Homo sapiens: one gene and its partners. The protein of the gene in region 1 purifies or fractionates together with the protein of each later gene. This does not show direct contact. Each region holds a gene or a part of one and is shown in the gene's direction. Other genes may lie near its edges.

Region 1 (7,534 bases):
GCATGTTTGACTTGCATTGTAGATTCTGATTCAGTAGGTCTGGGCCCAAGATAATGTATTTCTTTTTTTTTTTTTTTTTATTGAGACGGAGTCTTGCTCTGTCACCCAGGCTGGAGTGCAGTGGTGCCATCTCCGCTCACTGCAAGCTCCGCCTCCCAGGTTCACGCCATTCTCCTGCCTTAGCCTCCCGAGTAGCTGGGACTACAGGCGCCCACCACCACGCCCAGCTAATTTTTTGTATTTTTAGTAGAGATGGGGTTTCACTGTGTTAGCCAGGATGGTCTCGATCTCCCGACCTTGTGATCTGCCCGCCTCGGCCTCCCAAAGTGCTGGAATTACACTGCGCCCGGCCCAAGATAATGTATTTCTAAAAACTTTCAAGTGACGCTGATGCTGCTGTTCTGAGGACCACACTTTGAGTAGAAAAACTTAGACTAGACAGAAAACAAGTAATTAGAGTACTGATGTGATGCTTTGTATGACTGGGCAAGCAGAGGGTGCTTAGAGTCTTCGTTTTGTTTTGCTTTGTTTTTCACTCTGCAAAACAATCTATGTTCGGTTAAAGCATTTTTGCACAATTTTTATTTCCTCCATAACTACATAAATATAGATTTCTCTGATTCATGAGTTTATCTTTTGCCATTTAATGATTATATACACTAGAGAGCAGTATCTATTTTATGAACAGAAGAATAAGGGGCCGGGTGCAGTAGCTCACGCCTGTAATCTCAGCACTTTGGGAGGCCGAGGCAGGTGGATGGCCTCAGTTCAGGAGTTTGAGACCAGCCTGGCCAACATGTTGAAACCCCATCTCTACTAAAAATACAAAAATTAAGTGGCAGGCACCTGTAATCCCAGCTACTCGGGAGGCTGAGGCAGGAGAATCACTTGAACCCGGAAGGCGGAGGTTGCAGTGAGCCGAGATCGCGCCATTGCACTCCAGCCTGGGCAACAAGAGCGAGACTTGGTCTCAACAACAACAACAAAAAAGAAGGAATGTAACATCATTATAAAGAAGACATAAACAAGTATTACATATTATTTACTATAATGAGAAAATATCCAAAATAGGTCACTGAAGTAGATTCTCCCAATTGTGAACAATAGTTTTTATTGTAAGTCAAAATAGGAAATATTTTCCAGAGGTTGCACAAACAGATTAAACCACAGAAATAACATTATTTCAGATAAATGGTCAATCCCTCTGTGGTCTTAGACATTTAGTTTTGGGTAGAGAACATGGAAAACTTCCTGAAGGAAGTGATTTCTAAGCTGAGAAACATCAATAGGCACTAGCCAGGTCTGTAAGTCTCTAACACCCATGCTTTAACTCATATTTTGGATCAAGTTTTTGTATTCTTTCATTTTAGTGTTTGTTTTGTTTTTGTTTAGTTTGCTATAATATTTTATCTGAATGGAGACTAATATCCTTTGAGGAGAAACAATTTCAAGTTTATTAATTAGGTTTCTGTTTAAGACTCCATCATAATATACCATTTATTAGTTTATAATTCAGATTCTAAACCTATTGTAAGAGTGCCTACTTGCAAAAAGCAAAGAACCAGAGGTTCAGGATTTGTGAAAATAAAAATACTGTAAAATATAAATGTTTAAATATTTTCTTTTCTTTTTTTTTGAGATGGAGTTTCGCTCTTGGTTGCCCAGGCTGGAGTGCAGTGGCGTGATTTTGGCTTACTCAATCTCCATCTCCTGGGTTCAAGCGATTCTCCCGCCTCAGCCTCCCAAGCTGCTGGGATTACAGGCGCCCGCCACCACACCTGGCTATATTTTTGTAGTTTTAGTAGAGATGGGGTTTCACCATGTTGGCCAGGCCGTTCTCGAACTCCTGACCTCAGGTGATCTGCCCACCTTGGCCTCCCAAAGTGCTGGGATTATAGGCATGAGCCACTGTGCCCAGCCAAATGTTTAAATGTTTTCACTATTAGATATGTCTAATAAGAACTAAAGGAATATCTTCTTGAAATTGAAAAGGAAATAATATTTTTCTATCCCATAAGGATTGTTGGAAAGGTTTAAAGAGACAATAATATACGCAAAGTGCTTACTTAGCAAGATGCCTAGTATAAGGAAGGTAGTATAAGAAAGTAATGTTTTGTTTTTGGTGTCCATTTGGGGTTCTCTAGTAGTTTGGACAGGTTATTTTAAGAGTAATCCTTTATGAAAATTATAATGTACACATTTTATTTTGGGACAAGGATTCTAATCATTTCAATAATTTATTTTTAAGCACAGTTTACTGGGGTCTCAACAAAAGTCACATATTCAGAAGTAGTATGGCCTCTAGGCTAGGAGTCTAGAGACCTAGGTTTTAGTTCTAGCTCTGTTAATCCTGTTTTACTTTGTGCCAATCATTTCAAAAAAGGATGCTTTACTAATTGCTCTGTAAGGTGCTTTCTAGTCTGCATCGGTTTTGTTGAGACTGCAATAGCAATGTATCCAAGGTCCAAACTAATGATTTGCCATCTGGTTTCATTTAGCAAAGTTAATGTTCGGTCATCAAGTACATATTCAGTAGGAAGTATTCTTTTTCGAAACAGTTTCTACAGTCATTTTTTTTTAACCCTGTATAAAATGAGTTTATTTTGGACTGTTAAAAAAATTCAAAACTTTAAAATTTGTTATTTTTCAACTAATGCAAAAGAATATATTAGAAACATCTGAATAAAAAATGATTCTGGGCTGGGCACGGTGGCTCACACCTTTAATCCCAGAATTTTGGAAGGCCGAGGTGGGCTGATCACCTGAGGTCAGGAGCTCGAGACCAGCCTGCCCAGCATGGTGAAACCCCGTCTTTACTAAAAATACAAAAATTAGCTGGTGTGGTGGCGGCTGCCTGTATTCCCAGCTACTTGGGAGGCTGAGACGGGAGAATCGTTTGAACCTGGGAGGTGGAGGTTGTAGTGAACAGAGATCATGCCATTGCACTCCAGCCTGGGCAACAAAGAGCGAAACTCCATCTAAAAAAAAAAAAAAAGATTCTGTTCTTTTCTGTATTTACTGATGTCCCTAAACATTTTACATTTTTTTTTAAAATTTAGGTTATCTCCCTATTAAAACTATTTACAAGTGACAGTGATGACTCCTGTTACTCAAAATTAAACCAAAATGAACATCAAACTGGGATTTATTGGGGCCCAGAAACAAGAAGATATAATTCATTCATTTGAAAATGATAAAGAGGGACTGAAATAATAGTGAGAAAGCTGCCCTGAGACCAGAGTAACTTTGTTTCTTTGATGTATCATTTACAGTAATAACCCAACGGGGTGCCAAGGGGCTGCCACTCTTTGGCTATGCTTTATTGTCCATTCACACTTTGTCTCCATGTTTCCTTCCCCCTTCCTCCTGTATACATGTATACAGAAGGGGGAAGGAAACATGGAGACAAAGTATGCATATACATATAGAAATTCTGGAGCAGTAACTTACTGATGTATACAACTTATCGAATCTCTCTGAGTTATGCTACTACCCCTAGTGTGTTGGGCATGTTGGCTCAAACTTCCTTAATCAGGAAACTTTGGAATGGGTTTATTGCTAGCTGTCTTTGCTTGGGTTTAATCTCAATATTTCTGAGGTGCAAAGTGCACTAGATTGAGAGTTAATAGATCTGAATTTTAATTCCAGTTTTGTTCCCAATGATCACTGTGACCTCAGGCACATCATTTCACCTTTCGTCGTTCATTCAGTTTATCTTACCTATTCATTAAAAACCAATCTGCCTGCCCCCAGTTGCTTTCTAGTGGTAGTGATGATGGAGGTGGTGAGAGACACAATAAATACATAAGCAAATAGGAGAACTATGAAGGAAGGAAAAGTTAGTGATGTACTAGGGATAGTGTACTTTTGATAGGGCATCTAGGATTTCTCTAGATAAGTGAAAAATGAAGAGGTTTAACTGGATGCTAAGGGGTCTTGCACATTAAAAGGCATGTGTTTCCGTCTTTTCACTACTGTGTTCTAGGAAGGCCCACCAATGCCTCTAACCTGTAAATAAATGCAAATCTATTTAAATCAAGTGATACATCAATTTTATGTTGCTTGATTTGGAAGTAATCCGCAAAGAAGCAATAGCTAAACATTTTAGTGTTGTTTGGGGAGTAGCTGCTGAACAATAAAGACCAAAACCATAACTAAAAAACAAACAAACAAACAAAAAAACGCAGCCCGAGACAGATCAGAAACTAGGTGTATGTAGGGCGCCAGGTTATGACACTGTTCTCTGACATCCACAGGGCGCAAAAAGAAAACCTCACTAGTCAGCTTCGCACGTGCTCTGCGCAGGGGCTCCTGCGAGGCCCTAGTCCCTCCCTGGGAGCTAAGAGCAGGACGGAGGCTGTACCTGACTGCTGCTTGGAGGGAACCCTGGCTGAGTCCAGGGAGGAGGAGCCAGAGGAGGGGCCGATTGGAAGCAGCCACCTCAGCGAAGCTGCAGGATTTCCGCAGGGCGGGAGCTGTTTATCTCCCGGAAGAAAACGGCTCCTGTCACAGAAGTCTCGTGATTGCTCTGGGAGCTTTGCTTAGACACTTGAAACTACAGGAGAAAGAAGGATCTAGCGAAATATGGCTACAGAGAGCCCTGCTACGCGTCGGGTCCAGGTGGCAGAACATCCTAGGTGGGGGAGAGGAGACGCCGGGCTTTGGGATCTGCTGGGTTGGCTACGTGTAGATCGGGTCCACAGCACTTGGCTCCTCCCTTGGGGCGCTGCTTTTGGTCCCGGGGAGCAAGTGGAACCCTTGGGATTCTATAAGGACACGTGGCTGGGCTTGCAAAAAAGATCACGCCGCAAACACATTCTACCTTGACTACTACGAAGGGTTGTATGTTTTTTTCTTCATCCATGCAGATTCTTCTTTTCCTTTTCTTGTTGTAATTAGTGTACTCTTTCTACTGGGCTTCAGCAGAAATGCCCATATCCACACTGAACTCCTCTCTTTGTCTCGCATGCCAGTTGATACTGCTTTTTAAAAGTCTTCTTTCTAAATATTAATTGAAAACAAACACAAAAACCTTCTTGGTGTCTGCATCCTCTTTAAAACAAAACAAAACAAAAACACGAGAATCTCTGAACTGTCACTTAGGGAATTAATTTGCTGGCAGTCCCTAGCTACACAGTAACTAATAGTTTAGTGATGTCTCGGGGAGGATCTTTTCAGTTACAGGTACTTTGTAGAAATACTTCGTTCTGACTAATGGGGCTGAGGTCTCATAAAATGAAGTCTGTCACCTGCTACATTAGCGAAGGGCTTTCCTGACTCTCTGCTTTTGCTGTTTTTCTTTTCTTTTCTTTCTTCCTTCCTTTCTTTTTTCTTTTTCTTTTTCTTTTTTTTTTTTTTTTTGAGACGGAGTTTTGCTCTTGTTGCCCAGGCTGGAGTGCAGTGGCGCCATCTTGGCTCACCGCAACCTCCGCCTCCCAGGTTCAAGCGATTCTCCTGTCTCAGCCTCCTGAGTAGGTGGGATTACAGGCAGGCGTCACCACACCCGGCTAATTTTGTATTTTCATCAGAGATGGGGTTTCTCTATGTTGGTCAGGCTGGTCTCGAGCTCCTGAGCTCAAGTGATCCGCTCACCCTGGCCTCCCAAAGTGCTGGGATTACAGACGTGAGCCATCGCGCCCGGCCCTCTGCCTTTGCTGTTTTCAGTTTTTTTCTGTTAGTTTTTTTCTCTGGCATCAAGTCCTTAAGCTCTTCCTACTTGGTGGTTTATTACCACCGTGTGTCAGTTGATGATATTATACTTTACTACAACTTGAAAATGTTCTTTCATCCTTAAACCAGCAAACAGTGTGTCTTTAGTTACCAGAAAGAAGCATGATTTCTTATTATAGAGTCCAGCACAGCTTTGGACTACTTCTCAATGTCTTTGAATGTTTTAATATACTCTAGAGGTTCTTGTATAGCACTGTTGCCCTTATATATTTGAATTAATTAAGACACACTGTTAAAGGCATGCTTCCAATAAGATTAATGAGAAATTTGTTACATGAAAATAACTTGATCTCTTGTAGTTTAGTCTTATTTTTTTTTTTTGAGACAGAGTCTTGTTCTGTTGCCCAGGCTGGAGTATAGTGGCGCAGTCTCCGCTCACTGCAACCTCCACCTCCCAGGTTCAATCCATTCTCCTGCCTTAGCCTCCAGAGTAGCTGGGATTACAAGTGCCCGCCACCACGCCCCGTTATTTTTTTGTGTTTTTGGTAGAGACGGAGTTTCGCCATGTTGGCCAGGCTGGTCTCCAACTTGTGACCTCAAGTGATCCGCCCGTCTCAGCCTCCCAAATTGCTGGGATTACAGGCGTGAGCCACCGTGCCACGTCTATAGTTTAATCTTCTACATAAAACATACCCATGTGTAAATTCCTAATGTGTTTCCATTTTATGTGATTGTAATAATAAAGATCAACATTTCTATCTATATTTACCCTGTTTGGGGGAGGATGGTGGTAACAAGTATAGGTACATGTACTAAAAGTGAAGAATTGTTTACTGAATTTCCTTAGTGTTCTTCTTGCTTTTCATGATTTTTATATTATTCATGTAACAAATATTTATTGTTAATATTTATTCTGTGTTATCCACAGAAGAGATCATAGTAGATAAGCTCTGCCGTTTTCTTGTTTTTCATTTGTGCACAAAATGCAATTATTAGCTTCAAGCAATGTTTTATTTGCAGGAATGTTTTGCAGCCACTTACTCATTCTAGGAGGGATGTATTTTATTAAATCTAAATAGTATAATCTATAAATTCACCTAACCGGTCAAGTATTGCAATATGCTGAGAAGGAAAAAAAATGAATGAATGGTCAGCCTGCTTTCTTGTGGAACTCTTATTCTTTTTCCAGGATGCCTCTTCAACCTCACAAGGCACATGATCCTTTGAGTAAAGGCACTGGTCAACCATATCATACATTTTAGTAAAACTTAATTTTATTTTTATTATTTTTATGTAAAAATCAAATAGAAATTGAAGTTCTAATATTTTCTTTCTGTGTCCCACTCTTGCATGGTACCGGTACCGTAAGACTCTGAATTTCACTGTTCTGGCTTTCTTTGCATTCTTAGCAGTTGTATCTCTTATCTTTACTTTCTCTTTTGGATTAAGTTTTAAAACTTGTTGGATTATTGCTATTTTTGTAGCAGTTTTATTGACATTCACGTATCATATAACTAATTCATTTAAAGTTTGCAATTAAATGGGTTTAATGTATTCATAGAGCTATGCAACCATCACCATAATCAAATTTAGAACGTTTTCTTAGAAAGAACCCAGCCATCCCTTAGATTATCACACCCCAGAACTCCATTCCCTTTCCCCTCACCTAGCCTTAAACAACTACTGCTCTGTTTTCTGTATTTATAGATTTAGTCACTTTGGGCATTTCAAATGAATGGAATCATATAAAATGTGTGTTTTTTTGGTGACTGGCTTCTTCCATGTGGCATAATGTTCTGAAGGTTCATGTATCAGTACATCATTTAACATGTATCAGTATATCATTCCTTTTTATGGTTAAATA
Region 2 (3,917 bases), on another chromosome or scaffold:
GCTTACACCTATAATCCCAGCAATTTGGGAGGCCAAGGTGGGCAGATCACTTGAGGTCAGGAGTTCGCGACCAGCCTACCCAACATGGTGAAACCCCATCTCTTCTAAAAATACAAACATTAGCCGGGCGTGGTGGCACATTCCTGTAATCCCAGCTACTCGGGAGGCTGAGGCAGGAGATTCGCCTGAACCCGGGAGGCAGAGGTTGCAGTGAGCCGAGATTGTGCCACTGCACTCCAGCCTAGGCGACAGAGTGAGACTCCATCTCAAATTGGAAAAAAAAAAAATTATATGAACTTTTGCTATTAATGTTTATTTGTAGGCTATTTATATCACTTCATAAAGAACAGTTCTTTGAGAAAAGAATAAAGGAATGTATTCATTTCCAGAAAAAGAGGGTTGGGGAAAGTTTGCCATGTAGGTTAGTCAGAAGAAAGCAATTCTATTATGCATAAAAATAACCTTAAATATGTAAGAGAGTATCTCCTCTACTTAAAAGTTATTATAGTAGTCACAGGCATACAGACCACAGGAATTCTATGGTCTTAACATATTTTAAAATTACATTTATTTTAATGTTCTTAAAGTTTATGAAGAGGAGTTTAAAGCAATTCCCATAATTAAATATTTACTCGGCAACTAAAAACTATTTAACACTTGTGGTTAATTATACACATAAACAAATGGCGACAGAGTAGCCTCACTACCACAATTACTTCATGGTTACACCTTTGCTTTCTAATAATAGGGGCTCCAGTTGCTAAATATATTTGTTTACTTACAGTTTAAGTTGAGCTGATTGTTGAATTCTGTTATTGTTCCTGAATTCAATGAGTATATAATTTGTAGAGATGTTGAATAGTTTGGATCTTAGTTTTTAAGGCTGAAAAATCTGGCTGGATTTAGTTTTTAAAAATTTGCATCATCAAGAATATTGCAGTTAATGTTCCTTTTTTTTTTTTTTTAAAGACAGAGTCTCACTCTGTCACCCAGGCTGGAGTGTACAGTGGTGTGATTTTGGCTCATTGCAACCTCAACCTCTGCCTCCTGGGTTCAAGCAATTCTTGTGCCTCAGCCTCCCAAGTAGCTGGGACTATAGGCATGTGCCACCATGCCCGGCTAATTTTTGTATTTTTAGTAGAGATGGGGTTTCACCATCTTGGCCAGTCTGATCTCGTACTCCTGGCCTCAAGTGATCCACCAGCCTCAGCCTCCCAAAGTGCTGGGATTACAGACGTGAGCCACCGTGCCCAGCCAGGTTTCCTTCTTTACCTTCTAAGAAACATTTAAACATAATGTGCCTGAGAAGGTTAATTTGTTGACTCTGTAGCATGTCAAGAAGAGTAGTTTTTTGAGATCTGGCAAGAATATTTTAGAGATACATATTCTTTTCTAAGTATGTTATCACCCTGTGGTGTTGAGCATATCGTCCCAAAAACCTGCTTCAGCAAGCAGTTCTTGGCCAGGCATGGTGGCTCACACCTGTAATCCCAGCACTTTGGGAGGCCGAGGCAGGTGGATCACGAGGTCAGGAGTTCAAGACCAGCCTGGCCAAGATGGTGAAACCCCATCTCTACTAAAAATACAAAAATTAGCCGGGCGTGGAGGTGGGCGCCTGTCAGCTACTCGTGAGGCTGAGGCAGAGAATTACTTGAACTCAGGAGGTGGAGGTTTTGGTGAGCTGAGATGGCGCCACTGCACTCCAACCCGAGCGACAGAGCAAGATTCCGTCCCAAAAAGAAAAAGCAGTTTTTGCCATCAGCAAGGATATCTCCTCCACTTTAATGGACAGGCCTCATTTTTGGCAGCTATGCTGTTTGAGATGTAGACTGAATATCCAAGGTTCCTCCCTAGCTCAAGTTTTTACTTGTGATTACACACACCACATTGAATTCCGTCTTCAGAGGCAAAGATTTGGGCTTCATATCTCAACAGCAAAAGGGCCTGTTCAGCAATTCCCTTCATTTTAGACTCATATGACCTCAGCGATTGCATGATAGTAGTAAACTAGTCTCCTGGAAATAATGGATGTAGGTGCTTCTAGAATATGTTACAGAATTTCAGACTTAACCTATTAATAGATAAATGGATCTTGACTTAAGGTGACAAAATGAAACTTTTATTATTGCTTAAAAATGCTGTGCCAATATTGTATAACTAGCTCCTCTAATACTTTTGGTATTTTGGATTTAATAATAAGACCTTAAGCATTTTAAATGTGAACATGTTCAGGGAAGTATGCTTTGATGTAAATGTCTCAGATCTAAGTTGTAACACAATTGAATACTTGTGGCTTATTCTTGGTTTAACTTAGGAAAACTGGTTAAACAATCCCCCATTTGGGCCTGTCATCATTTTAATAGTGACGATGTTCTTTCTGAAATCTTCAGGGTCGGAGTCAGGCTGAATTTTTTTAAAAATTAAATATTATGTTCAAATTCTTTCCTTTTTGCCATTGTGAAAAAGCAAAATTTTAAATGATTTCTCCTGTTAGAATTTTTAAAAATACCCACAGGTTGGACCATCTTTCTTATGGGTTGCACAATGAATTTATATTTTAAATTAGATTAAGTAGAATGTGAAGTACATTTCAGATTTACTAGTTTTCTTTCCATTGTTCATTTTGGGTTGCCTCAGATTCAGTGTATATTTTAAAATATTGGTTACATAATAGGTACTCAATGAAATGGTTTATAGTAGAATATCTAAGCTAGCACTTTATTTTAAAAAGTAACTTATTAATTAATCACACATTGATGGTACACCTTGTATTTAGCAAATGTTTGCATGTTGATAAAATCTCCTATGTCTTCTTTCTTAAATCCAGTTGCTGATTTTGTAAAATACAGTTGTGATAAAGCAGCATTACGGGGGGGAAAAAGCTATATTCCAACTGGTGTTAAATGTATTCAACAAAATCTTACATCATACAGTATTTATTTCTTAATTAATAGAACTTCAGTGATATACTTGGTAGATATCTCAAGCCTTTTGTCTTTTACACAATGGTGCTCTATCCTATTGTTTTCTTTTCAAAGAAGCATCTGAACACTTGCATTTCTATTTTCCTATCCAAAGGCATCCACATCTAAGTGTGTTTTTAAAGTTGATTAAAATTATTTTTCTGTTAAAGCATTCTGAAAGTGTTTGTCTTTACCTAGAATGATTTGTACACACTCGTGGTCAACTGAACATGAATGTCAGTAGTAGTCTAATTATGGGAAGGGTAAACGTGTTAGATTAAGGCTCTTAAAGCTCTAAACCATATAAACTATGGACTTGTATCATGATTTAACTGTTCTTAGATCTTTCTTACACAGTGATTCATTCCTCTATTTGTACAGTGGCTTTATGAAATGTTGTGAATTGATACTGTAATCAATAAAGTGCTTTTAACCAGATTTCATTGTATTTTTTTATGCCACAATTTTTTTTTTTTTTTGAGAGTGTTACTCTCTTGCCCAGGCTGGAGTACAGTGGTGTCGTCATGGTTTACTGCAACCTCAGCCTCCCGTGCTCAAGTGATCATCCCACTTCAGCCTCTGGAGTAGATGGGACTATGGGTACGTGCATGCCACTATGCCCAGTTAATTTTTATATTTTTTGTAGAGACAGGGTCTATGTTGCCCAGGCTGGTCTTGAACTCCTGGGCTCAAGAGATCTGCCTGCCCCAGCCTCCTAAAGTGCTGGGATTATAGGCGTGAACTACCATGCCCAGCCAATTTTTTATAAAAAGTTTTTATTGAGACAGGGGTCTTGCTTTGTTGCCCAGGCATGTCTCGAACTCCTGGCTTTAAGGGACCATCCCACCCTGATCTCCCAAACTGCTGGGATTGCAGGCTTGAGCCAACAAGCCTGGCCTCTGTAATTTTTAAATAAGCGATGCTGCCTATGGTGTTGATTAATTAATTATCTTA
Region 3 (7,302 bases), on another chromosome or scaffold:
TAAATATTTTGACATGTATTTGTGTAATAATTTGATTAATTAATACTTGATTGTATGAGGGCACAGACTATACACACACACACACACACAAACATATATATATATATTTTTTTGAGGCAGGGTCTCGCTCTTGTCACCGAGGCTGGAGTACAGTGGTGTGATCACAGCTCACCATAGCCTCAACCTCCTGGGCTCAAGTGATCCTCCCACCTCAGCCTCCCAAGTAGCTGGAACCACAAGTGTGTGCTACCATGCCTGGCTAACTTTATTTTTGGTAGAGATGGGGTCTTGCTATGTTGTCCAGGCTGGTGTGAAACGCCTGTGCTTGAGTGATCCTCCCACCTTGGCCTCCCAAACTGTTGGGATTACAGGTGTGAGCCACTGCACCTAGCTGATATTTTCACTCACCATTGTATCCCTAGCAACTTGGATAGTGCTGACACATATCAAGCACGCAAGAATGACTTAAATTTCTAAATGGATTATCTATTTTAGTCATAAGATACATGAATTGGCATTAAAGTTTTCAAGAACCTCTATCAATATAATGTGAGGCTAGTCAATTATCCAAAAAGTATTCTCCTAAAACCTAAAAAGTAAGAAATTAGTAAAATTTTCAATAAGTAACCAAGGACAAAACTAGATTGTTCTATAAAATTTTAAAAACTAACTTTAAGACAAAAATTAGTAGGATGTAGTTACTGGGAAATTAAACAAGTTGGGAAATACAAACAGGGTGGAAGATGATAGTTACCCTACACATCTCACCAACACTGTCTAGGATTACAGACAAATGATTTTACCTCTTTCCTTAATCAAAACAAATTGTTTAGGGAGAATGTTTTAAAGGAATAGTCCCAGCCGGGCGCGGTGGCTCACACCTATAATCCCAGCACTTTGGAGGCTGAGGCTGGCAGATCACTTGAGATCAGGAGTTTGGGACCAGTCTGGCCAACATAGTGAAACCCCGTCTCTACTAAAAATACAAAAATTAGCTGGGTGTGGTGGCACATGCCTGTAATCCAGCTACTCGGGAAGCTGAGGCGGGAGAATCACTTGAACTCGGGAGATGAAGGTTGCTGTGGGCCAAGGTCGCGCCACTGCACTCCAGCCTGGGTAACAGAGTGACAGAGGGAGACTCTGTCTCAAAAAAAAAAAAAAAAAAAAAAAAAAAGGAACAGTCCCTTTAAGAGTGACTAAAGATGTAAAGAATAAAGCTAAACCAAGCCAGCTACATAACTATAGAGGTATAAATGTAAAATTAACATTCATTGATTATTTACTATGTGTCAGGGATGATCTATGAGCATTTTTTAATAGACTACTTTACACTGAATATGAGCATTTATTAACTCATGCTTTTTCAAATCAACTCTATGATGTAGTTACAATTATTATCTCTATTTTACAAGTGAGAAGATCACATAAGTTTTAAGTAGGCAGAGTCAAGATTTGAACCCAGGCTAAGGTTAAGAGCTGGTGCTCTTAACTATAAGAGGACAGTAGTTAAAATAGATATCTTCCCTAATATGTGTGTAAATACTGAAGATTTTTTTATTAATACAAATTGTTTTCTTATCTAGACTATTTCACTAGCCCTCTAGTTAGTTTCCTTGACTCTAATTTTGCTCTCCTTAAATCCATTTTCCACACTGCATCCAGTGATCTGCTTAAATCTTAAATGGACTTGTACAAAATTAAGGAAAACCTACTCAGCACGGCAAACAAGGCTATGATTCATGCTTAATGACCCCAGCCTTCTGGCCTCTCCGATGTCCTTTTCTGCTACTCCCACCCTAGACTTTATATGTCTTAAAGTCTAATACAAACTCAGTACTTGTAGTGTCCACTACACACTAACCATCCCCACTTACACTATGTATTTTAAGAACTATGGATCTTTTTGTTCGCTTTTCTGAAATGCCCCTTGTTCCTGGCATTTTCGTCTCAATTAAGCATCTTTCTGGATTAAATTTTATTTTCTCCAGGAATCCTCTTCTGAAACCCTTAGAAGTGACCCTCCTCTACTGGTACTTAGCCATCCTTTATTGAAATTACCTGTTTATGAGCCAGTAACCTTTATTAAGCTCTTTGAGAAGAGGGATTCTTTCTTTCTCTTTTACCTACATCCCGCACAACCCAGCTCCCCCTCCGTCTCCCCCACCTCCATGCACAATTCCTGGCACGTGTTAACTGTTCAGTAAATGTTGAACTTTTGAACTTTACTGGAAATCAAGAAACACTGAGTTTTAGCCTCAGTTTTGCTCACTATGTGATTTTAGATATTTTATTCTCTGTGCTTATCGTGTGTATCTATATACAACTTAATCCTAAAGTTCCATCGTATAAAAAATTCTACAACTTTTTATTTTGCTCTGTATGTGACAGTACCTGGTATTTAAAAACAATTCTCTACATCAACTTAAAAAATTAACATTTGATGATTATAATTAACTTCTAAAAAACTGAAAGATGAAACACATCAATGCCTTTTCTTTCCCCCCTGTACTGCTACCTGAAAACATCGGAATTTGCTGTGGAACGAACAAGATTTCTTCTAAGAAATTACCCCCTACCACCATGACTACATAAAATAAGGTAATTCCCAGCAAGAATATTATGCAGATACTAAAAAGAAAACATGCTAGGCATGGTGGCTCACGCCTGTAATCCCAGCACTTTGGGAGGCCGAGGCGGGTGGATCGCCTGAGGTCGGGAGTTCGAGACCAGCCTGGCCAACATGGTGAAACCCCGTCTCTACTAAAAATACAAAAATTAGCTGGGCATGGTGGCGCACGTCTGTAATCTCAGCTACTCGGAAGGCTGAGGCAGGAGAATCGCTTGAACCCGGGAGGCGGAGGTTGCAATGAGCCGAGATAGCGCCACTGCACTCCAACTCTAGCTTGAGCAACAAAGCGAGACTCCGTCTCAAAAAAAAAAAAAAAAAACAATGACACGAGGGAAATGCTTACAATGCTCAATGAAAAAATGAAAAGAAAGGTTATAAAGTTTTAATATACGATTTGATCTTTTGAAAATAATGGATATATAACTTAAACGGAAATGTATCATTAAATATAGCAACAGCGTCTTCCAAAAAATTTCAAAATCGGGCTTAATGCCAATTACACGATCATAATCCAAAAACCCTTAACTGAAGCAAAGACAGTGATTTGTAACATCTGAACTGTGTGAAAGGGGTGGGGGTGATTCAAACAAGTGTCATCACCTTGTCCAATGATGAAGGAGAACGTGTATCAGTTCTGCATTGTGAAATTCTCAGTATGAGAGCGTGTAGTGGCTAAGAAAAGCAGTGGGCGAATTAGGAAACAAAGAGAAAAGCCAGCGACATCACCAGTTCTGGCCTCCTTCCCACCGGAGGAAAGGGGAGAAGGCGGGTAGTCATCAATTCCAGGTCCAGCCTAAGTTCTGGGTCCCCGGCCCCAGCGAGAGCCTCGCCTCGCCTCGCGCGCCTGCGCGGAGCGGGCTGGCTTCCTGAACGGCCCTCGCCTCTTCACCACCAGGGCCGTCCACCAGAAGTTTCTAAACGGGTGAGAGGCGACAACGCAGTGCAGCTGGGTTAAAGGAAGGAGGCTGGTTTATCCTCCGCACTTACTTGGTACTCGATCTCCAGCGAGGCCTTCAGGGGCATGGGCTGGTAGAAGCACTCCTTCTGGCCGGCGGGAAGGGTAAAGGTGAAGTCGCTATCGAGGGAAGGTGTGAAGCCGGCCGCCCCAGGCAGCAGCACCGGAGGCAGAGCGGCCAGAAGGAGCACGGGGAAGGGCAGCCAGATCTTGTCGCCCATCCCTGCTGGGGCGATCCCGGGCTGAAAGAGGCGTCAGGTACTGTTGTCTCCGCTCCGCGTTTCCTCTCTGGACTCCTCGTGGTTGACAGGGAAATCTGGAGTCTGAAGAAACTCCAGGTGGCGGCCGCGGCGGCGGCGAACACTCCCTCCGAAAGAGAAGCGCAGTTCTCCAAAGGGTAGGGACTCTGGGCGGGGCTAGCAGTCCTATTCCGCAACCGCCTCAGTCTCGGCCCCCTCAGGCCAGGCGTGAGCGCCGCCCGCCTCTCCCCCTGACGGCCTCCGGTTCCCATGGCTTCCCCCACCAATGGGCATCATGGCGGTAATTGTGGGAAATGTAGTCCCGGGCGGGCTCCGCTAGTGGGCTCGGGCGCGCTCGCCGACCACGATCCCCGGCAAGCCCCGCGCCTTCGGCGGCGCCTCACGCAGTCTGCGCCGGGGCGGGGCAGTGACCGGGTAGGCGCGTCCCAACGGCTCCCGCGGCGGTTCGAATTCTGTGCTGCCGGGGTTCGCTGGTTCTCCGAGTTGTGTCCGAGGCTTCCACGCGCAGGGGCCCGGGAAAGGGTCAGAGGCTTCCTAACGCAGACTCGAGTGCGAAGCGCGCAGTCGCCGGGTGGGTCTCTCCCCAGCGACGATTTGGGTGGTGAGCGACTGCGCCTTGGCGTGGGGAAACCGGCTTACCTGGGGGAGTTCTGTTCCTTTCCCTCCCGGCACCTTGGATGCGCTGGGACTGGTCCTCGTGGTTGCTGAGCATGCTGCTCTGAACGGTTGTATTTTATTTGATGAAAAATAGGAGGCCGGGCGCAGTGGCTTACGCCTGTTACCTCAGCACTTTGGGATGTCGAGGCGGAAGGATTGCTTGAGCCCAGGAGTTCGAGGCCAGCCTTGGCAATATGGCGAGCCACTGTCTCTATAAAATTAAAAAAAAAAAAAAAAAGAGGAAACTGTCACTTCCGTCCCCCACCCCCGCCCCCGCTTCTTTCAGACGGATGTAAGATTAGCTGTGTCAAGCGATCTTGAGACAGGAGACTACTACATAAAGTTATGACTTCTTTCCAAAATGAGGAATCTTTTTCGACTACAGCCCATTGTATCACATACATAGGGTATAAAAGAACACTTGTCCTTCGTTTGATGGGTGTGCGTGTGCAAACCTACAAACACATTGTTAATTAGGGCCGAAAGATGATGTTGTTAAGGTCGGTGAGTAGGATGATGTGCTTTTCTAGGTATGCATAGTCAGTGAAGATAGCCTTTTTTGGGTAACTACTGTAAATTGAAGTTAAGGACATTCATTTGACAGTAAATGTCCCACTAGGAAAATGAAAACATTTTAGTATCAAATATATTCATTGCTACTGCAGAAGAGTTAGGGAGTTCTTTCTTTTTTTTTTGAGACCGAGTCTCACTCTGTCGCCCAGGCTGGAGTGCAGTGGCGCGATCTCGGCTCACTGCAACCTCCGCCTCCCAGGTTCAAGCAATTCTCTGCCTCAGCCTCCCGAGTAGCTGAGATTACAGGCGCTCGCCACCACCCCCGGCTAATTTTTTTGTATTTTTAGTAGATACGGGGTTTCACCATCTTGGCCAGGTTGGTCTTTAACTTTTGACCTCGTGATCCACCCGCCTTGACCTCCCAAAGTGCTGGGATTACCGGCGTGAGCCACCGCGCCCGGACTGGGAGTTATTTCTTGCATGGCAATACACAGATGTTGAACTAAAACCTGATTTAAGATGAAATATATAGTACCAAATGGTATTATAGAATTTGCCCAATTTTCTCTACCCTTTTCTCCTTCACCATCCTACAGAGAGCTAGAGATGTTGAATAGGTAAAGCAGGATGGGGACCTGATTTATTGACTTGTCTGCGAGAGTCTTGTCACTTAAGCAGAAGCAAATTTGTGGAAACAAAAAAGGGAAAGAGGATAGAACCAGTTTGTCTATTAAGATTACATAGTATCTCATTTAATTTCCTGCCACTTTCTTTCCATAAGGTGGGAGTTTTCTTTTTAATCTTCCTCCCTACATCTGAGAATTTTTGAGTGGGGAATAAATGTAACATACCATTCTAACTGGATGAGGGAAGGAAGGACAGTTTAGTATTCGTTAATTCATTCAAAATATTGAGCTTCTCTAAGTACATTGCGGTCCTGAACGTAATGCACAGGACTTTTAACCTTTTGGAACTTGGGATGGGATCAGAATGCTAAGAAGGGCGTTGAAGGAGATGCTACAGTGAAAAAGGTAAATGGGATCTGAAAGAGGAATGTAATTTTAAGATTGCGCAGAAAGCTCTGTAGTAGTGGAGATTATAAAGCTTTAGTTTTTTATTGTATTAATTACAATAATAAAATGTGATGCTTTATTGTGATTTTTATATGCAAAGAAATTTAGTAGTTTCACAACCCTAGAGATACTCATCCACTGAAGAAACAAAAGCTTTTCTTCATTTCTATGAGTTGACCTGCCAAATGTTATTTTGATCCCTGTGGTTGTGACTTGTAAATGTGTCTTTTTAAAATTTTATAACTATTGGGCGTAGGAGGAGGAGACAGCTTTTATCTGGTAATAAATTCCCTTCTAACAAAATATGAATGTAATGATACCATTTAATCAGATGTCCAGTACTTGTAATGTAATTATGAAAGTTCAAACACCTCATATTGAAATTGATATGTAATATGTAATAAAGCTACAATGCGACATAATTTAATGGTCTTTGCATCCTAATGACTTGGATTCAAATCTTGATTTCACCATTTACAGTTTGTGTGACTTTGAGCAAGTTATTTAATGTCTGATTCTTAGTTTCCTTAACATGTAATGAAAATAATTAACAATTGTTAGGAAGATCAGGTATGCTTACAAAAGAGAACTATAATAACTAGACCCTGGCTAAAATGAAAAATTCATTCATTGAAATTGTATTGAATTCCTTTATGGCTTTACACTACAGATAAATTCATTATTATTGATTTTTTGTTTTGTTTTAAACCACCATGAAAGATTTCACAACATTTAAAATAGAAAACTAATGAGTTAAATTCTATTCATGTGAGTATTTTGACTGAAACTACAGAATCTTTCAGACAAGGTACAAGAAATTCATTTTTTTTTTAAGAAATGGAATCTAGTTCATCAGACTACTATAATAAAGACAATGAAGAGGAAAGTTTGCTTGCAAATGTTGCTTCCTTAAGACATGAACTGAAGATAACAGAATGGAGTTTGCAGAGTTTAGGGGAAGAGTTATCCAGGTAAGTAAGTAAAATCACATATAGAATTCACTGTGCCTTAAATACATCAATGTAAAATGTGTGGATTTCATTATGATGTATTGTTTCTAACCTGCCTCTGGAATAAGAAATAATTTTCTTATACTTTTTAATGTAACTTTCAGTTTAGGGAAAAATAAGGAATATTAGAGAAGCCTCTTTGCATATTAAAAACACTTTCAGTGTATTAGAACTCAGTATAAAATATATATTTTGGGCTTTACTA

The links.
Region 2: the proteins of GALK2 (region 1) and GNB4 purify together in Homo sapiens (affinity purification with mass spectrometry; 2 studies listed by BioGRID and IntAct, with this or other methods). This does not show direct contact.
Region 3: the proteins of GALK2 (region 1) and CCDC18 purify together in Homo sapiens (affinity purification with mass spectrometry; 2 studies listed by BioGRID and IntAct, with this or other methods). This does not show direct contact.

What each region holds. Positions count from the first base shown.
Region 1 is NC_000015.10:49,165,739-49,173,272, forward strand, and holds the start of GALK2 (N-acetylgalactosamine kinase), read left to right. Parts: upstream 1-4,508; 5' UTR 4,509-4,584; coding exon 4,585-4,637; intron 4,638-7,534. UniProt on the Homo sapiens protein: Acts on GalNAc. Also acts as a galactokinase when galactose is present at high concentrations. May be involved in a salvage pathway for the reutilization of free GalNAc derived from the degradation of complex carbohydrates.
Region 2 is NC_000003.12:179,395,572-179,399,488, reverse strand, and holds the end of GNB4 (guanine nucleotide-binding protein subunit beta-4), read left to right. Parts: 3' UTR 1-3,401; downstream 3,402-3,917. UniProt on the Homo sapiens protein: Guanine nucleotide-binding proteins (G proteins) are involved as a modulator or transducer in various transmembrane signaling systems.
Region 3 is NC_000001.11:93,176,438-93,183,739, forward strand, and holds the start of CCDC18 (coiled-coil domain-containing protein 18), read left to right. Parts: upstream 1-4,286; 5' UTR 4,287-4,415; exon of another isoform or gene 4,416-4,445; intron 4,446-6,922; 5' UTR 6,923-6,924; coding exon 6,925-7,058; intron 7,059-7,302. Other genes in the region: TMED5 (transmembrane emp24 domain-containing protein 5 isoform 1 precursor), read right to left, coding at 3,617-3,805.